Linked DNA regions of Homo sapiens: region 2 is linked to region 1. The links come from fine-mapping of genetic effects on gene expression. Tissue or cell type: cerebellum. Region 1 holds a variant in brackets; the other region holds the start of a gene. All regions are shown on one strand. Distances are between the middles of the regions.

Evidence for each region. PIP is the estimated chance that this variant, and not a neighbour inherited with it, causes the effect.
Region 2: H2BK1 starts here. The variant in region 1 is fine-mapped to the expression of H2BK1 in cerebellum (GTEx, PIP 0.96).

What each region holds. Positions count from the first base shown.
Region 1 is chr7:151,315,305-151,317,986 of GRCh38, reverse strand. No RefSeq gene overlaps it. Among named protein-coding and RNA genes, the nearest start is that of NUB1, 25 kb to the left of the region's middle. The variant G/A (reference allele first, on the strand shown) is at 1,585.
Region 2 is chr7:151,209,225-151,211,906 of GRCh38, reverse strand. H2BK1 (H2B.K variant histone 1) reads left to right here and starts at 1,419. Exons shown (of 2, transcript NM_001369125.3): 1 at 1,419-1,720. The coding sequence starts at 1,589. ABCF2-H2BK1 (ABCF2-H2BK1 readthrough) reads left to right here. Exons shown (of 17, transcript NR_160983.1): 16 at 699-790. ABCF2 (ATP binding cassette subfamily F member 2) reads left to right here. Exons shown (of 15, transcript NM_007189.3): 15 at 1-423.

The sequences.
Region 1 (2,682 bases):
CCTTAGCCTCTGAGTAGCTGAGACCACAGGTGCAGGCCACCATGCCTGGCTTTTTTTTTTTTTTTTTTTTTTTTGTATTTTTTGGTCAAGACAGGGTTTCGCCAAATTTCCCAGGCTGGTCTTGAACTCCGGAGCTCAAGCAATCCACCCATCTCAGCTTCCCAAAGGGCTAGGATTATAGGTGTGAGCCACTATGCCCAGCCTTGACTCCTCTTTTGAAATGGTTATATCATCTGCCTAGTTTCCACATGAATTAAATAAAACCTTTAACAGTGTTCATTTTTAACCTGAAGAAGAGTCATGGTTTTACTTTTTTCCCTGAAATTTGTCTTTCAATGCTTCTGTGCCATGGACAACAGATAGCAACTGCGCATCCAGGCATCGTGCTTGTGGTTCAGACCAGAGGAAGCGGGGAGGGCAAAGAATGGAAACCACTTGCCCACCAAGTCTGCCCATTTTTGTCAGGCAAATAGTAGTAGCTCGTCCAGAATCCCCATCCCTTAGACTCCCTCACACCTGACTGCCTAGAAAAATGCCACATAGACACTCCTAATTGCAAGGGATCTTGGGAAATCATTGCCTACCCACTACAGGAAAAAAAAGAAAAAGGTAATCTGTGAGCAAGGAAGAAGAGAATGGGCGCTCAGTAGGCAACCAGGCTGCATCAACAAGGACCCACTCCAGACAAAGCTTTAGACAGAGCTTCAGATGACCTCGCTCTTGTGTGCACATTCCCCCATCCTCCCATCCGACCTCCTTACCCCCACCCGTGCGCTCATCTTGAAGCCACTAATGACCACGCTGCTGCAGCGTCTAAGTGATTTATCCTCATGTAGCCGATTTTTAGTGGGGTACCCCCAAAGGAGTAGTACAGAGGAGTCCGTGTTAGGGACAGAATTGCTGTCATCAGGACGGCTTGTAAGGGAGCTTTGGTGGGAGCTGGGAAAGAGGGGCGTCTTTCCTTCCTTCCCCACTCCACTGGCCGATGCCTGGATTACCAGCAGATCCCTATACCACCTGGATGCAAGGCTGGCCCAAGAGAAGATTTGCTGAATATCTTGAGAATGCTATTTGATACATTTTTCTTACTTTTTCATTATTAAAATTGTTTTCAAATAATAAAATAAAATGAGAGAAGAAAATGAGAAAATTATATTTTAAGTAATTTTCCTTACCTAAAATAGAACCATTATAACATGTTAAAGTTTTCCAGAGTTTTCTCTCTAATAAGAGCTTTTCTTACAGTCATCATCCCAGGTGTGCAAATTTTTAACCTATTTTTTTAATTAATGTATCCTAAGCATATTTTATTTTATTTTATTTTATTTTATTTTATTTTATTTTATTTTATTTTATTTTATTTTATTTTATTTTATTTTATTTTATTTTATTTTATTTTATTTTATTTTATTTTATTTTATTTTATTTTATTTTATTTTATTTTATTTTATTTTATTTTGAGACGGAGTCTCACTCTGTTGCCCAGGCTGGAGTGCGGTGGCAAATCTCGGCTCACTGCATGCTCCGCCTCCCGGGTTCAAGCTATTCTCCTGACTCAGCCTCCGAGTAGCTGGGATTACAGGC[G/A]CCCGCCACCACACCCAGCTAATTTTTTGTATTTTTAGTAGAGACGGGGTTTCACCATGTTGGCCAGGCTGGTCTCAAACTCCTGACCTCAAGTGATCCGCCCACTTTGGTCTCCCAAAGTGCTGGAATTACAAGGCATGAGCCACTGTGTCCGGCCTTAAGCATCTTTTATGTTATTTCATACCTTCATTAATATAACTTCAGTAGCTACTTCATATCTCCCCACGTGGACATAACCATAGATTAGTCAATCGTACCCTATTACTGGTCATTTAAGTTTGTATTAGCTAGAAGACAGACTTACCTGTAATCCCAGCTACTTGGGAAGCCGAGGCACAGAATCACTTGAACCCAGGAGGAAGAGGCTGCAATGAGTTGAGATTGCACCACTGCACTCCAGCCTGGACGACAAACTGGAGTGAAATTAGCAAAAGTGCAGGAAGCATTGATTTTTTTTTCTTTGAGACTCTGTCTCAGAAAAAAAAAGTCTCACCATCAACATCTATAATAATAAAGAAAACGAAGAACTAGAATCGATGTTTATAATGCGTCTTACTCTAGCACAGAGATACGTAAGCTAGGAAATAAAAACAACTTCATTCACCTCATTGAGAGATGCATTTCCAATAAAAACGTACTTTTTATGTTTAACAATTGTTAATTAGTTTGTCACATATTTATTCTGTTTTAATCAAATATCCATAATGGTGATGATAACTGTAAGCAGAAGGTAACGTTTCCATAATTACAGACCTGATCACAAAGGTACCGCTTCCTTCAATTTCAATGTATAAACATATTTTCATTGCTGAGAAGTATGAGAGGTATAAGCCATATGACTTTCACACATAACATATATTAGGATAAAAGTTTATGAGGGAGGTGGATGGAAAGAATGGTTAAAGAACTCATTTACGTATGTTTAAATGGTGGGTGCCAGAGTGATACGATGCCTGCATATCACTGAACACACAGCCAAGAGTCACATGTTTTATTTTCAAAATATTAATATTTTTAATAAGCTGGAAGTTGCATGCTTTTCAGCCATTAAACCTGGAGGAAAATTTTTAGGTGCAAAATGGAAAACTCTGAGGACAC
Region 2 (2,682 bases), 110 kb after region 1:
CTGGGCAACAGGGACAGGAGCCTCCCGTGAGACACTGCAGCTGAGACAGATGGGAGTCCTCTGACCCCAGAGGGTACTGGCTTGACTGCTTTATGCCTTAAGTGGGGCCTGGAGCAAAATGGCCCAGGTTAGTCTGTCCTGAGAGTCCAGAGCCTTGGTTCAGGGGAGAATGGCATCTGGAGAGTGGGCTGCTGGGATAATGGGGACAGTGAGGGACAGAGCCCTTGATACTTAAGGAAGTGCTGGATATTGCTAAGAATTCAGGTAGTCTCGGGATCTCCAGAGTCTCCATACTAGGACAGGAGATCTTCAGAACCTGGAGGAATGGAAATAGTCTAGTCAGCTTATTTGTCAAGAAAAATGTCAACCTTGGTAATTTAAATAATGCTTTAAAAGTCCACAAAATACATATTTCTAAAATTAGCAGTGCCTTGTTTTGGATTGAGAAGTGGCCTGTTAATTCTCTTAAACCTTAGCCCGTAGGATGTGGCCAGCCGTTCAGAGCTGGGTGGAGAGGTAAGTTGATTGAGGGGTTGCTAGCTTTAACACAGCCAGCAGGTGATGCTGGTCTTTGGAACCCTTCTCCCACCTCTCAATTTGTAACATCCTCTTTTCCCCCAAGCCCCTATACCTTTCATATTGCTCCAGGTTTCTTTAATCACAGCATTCAAGGGCCTGAAGTATTTGTTCCCCCATAGGTGCTAAGTGAGACAATTGACTTTCTCCATTTTGCAATGGGCTTTTCTTCCCTTTACTGCTAACTCCCAAGACCGCCACGTCTGCTTTTCTGGTGAGCACCTATTGCTTTTCTGCTTCTCACCTCCTCCAGTGGTCTTCCTCCCTGTCAGCCTCTTCACCACCTGGGGAGCTTCTGCTATCTGCATCTAGTCCAGGCTCAGGCGTTTTGCTCATCTGCCTTCAGTCCAAGCCTCATTATACTCCGCTCACACTGATTCCACTCTACCTTTCACACCGTTTCTTTCTCTCATTCTTCCCAATTAAAGGATACATCCTACAAGGATACATCCTACAATGGGTATATGAAGGATACCCTTCATATACCCATTTGTACCAAGAAGCGGCCTCTAGCTACTCGAGCCCTCCTCACCATGGGTACCACCACTTTTAGCCCCTTCACCCTTCTCTGGTGGTTTGATGTGAACCAGTCTTGTCTCTTCACCTCCACTGGGGCGCAGTGGGGGAGGGAGCTTGCATTCCTTCTGGAGTCTGCAGCACTCTGAGCTGTGCTGGCACCTGTGTGCTCCGTGATTACAGGCTGGTGGGCTGGAGTTGCCTGAACTTTTAAGAAGTGCGTAAATACACTGGGAGATGGTTGGGTGGGGGAGGGGACCCGGTGAAGGGTTTCTTAATTCAGAGGGATTACTTGTGGGAGAGGAAGGAACAATTAGTCTCTTTTCAAGGTTAGCCCAGAGCATGTTCAGGATTGGGATTGAGTCACGCCCCTTACCTCCCACCTGCCCCCCCCCCCCCTCCCAGGTGCATGTCCCCAGCCACACCTGGTGGGGCAGCTGACTTGATAAAAAGTAGCTCCAAGGGGGTGGGTGAGGGCTATTCGAGAAGCAGGAGGATGAGCGCTGAGTATGGACAGCGGCAGCAGCCCGGGGGCCGTGGGGGTCGCAGTTCTGGGAACAAAAAGTCCAAAAAGCGCTGTCGGCGCAAGGAGTCCTACTCCATGTATATCTACAAGGTGCTGAAGCAGGTGAGTGCATAGCAAGGATGTGTGTGAGGGATGCCCTCACAAAGCGCCTTGAAAGGGCACTGGCTGGAAGTGGGGACCTTGAGGTTAGTGTTGGCACTGGGGCAAGTGGCTCAGGCAGGCCTGGCCCCTCTTGAGGTGGCGGGACCTGGTTTTTGAGGTCTCCACCTCTCTCAGGATCTTGGGCACCGGTGATAGGAGACAAAGCGTGCTCCCTGCCACCCTCCAGAAGTTTACGGGAACGATGATGAGATAACGTGATTAGGTGGGACATAATTAAAGGACAAGAGGACCACACTTTCTATGCCAGGCTGAAGGTGATCAGGTGCCAAACACATTATGATACAAAGTGTGTTGGTGACCGAGAAGAGGAGTGATCAGGGTGAACTGGAGTCTTGGGGAAGGTCTTCTGGACAAGTGGCACTCAGTTCTTTGAGGGGCTTAGGGTTTGTCCACCTTATAGACAAACAGCTTGAGGCCCCTAAAGGCTCCATGGGGTTCCTGCATCACATGGCCTGACAGTGGCAGTGTCCCAGTTCCCCTGGCTCTGGGCAAGCCCCTAGCATCCTTCCTGTGTGTCCGTCTCCCCAACACACTGGGGCTGCAGGTGCCCTATATTCATGCACGAAAAGCAGCTACTCCCAGGACTTGGAACACTGACAATCAATTTGTCTGGAGGATCCAAAGCTGCTGCTCAGCAGGGCCAAGGCCAGGAGGAGGCGGGGGTAGCCATGTGTTGCCCGCCCTGGGTCTCCAACCTGCTTGAAACTCTTACCCCTCTGTTAGAGCAGGCCCCAGAGGTAATGCCTGTCTCCAGTCCAAATCCCATTAGCGGTTTAGTGAATTGACAACCTGGGTGCCTGGGAATGCTCTTGTGGGGTTGGGGGTGGGTGGGTCCAGCACTGATATGGGTTGGCTGAAGAGATGCACCAGAGGACAGACTCTGGTGCCCTGAAGAAGGTGGG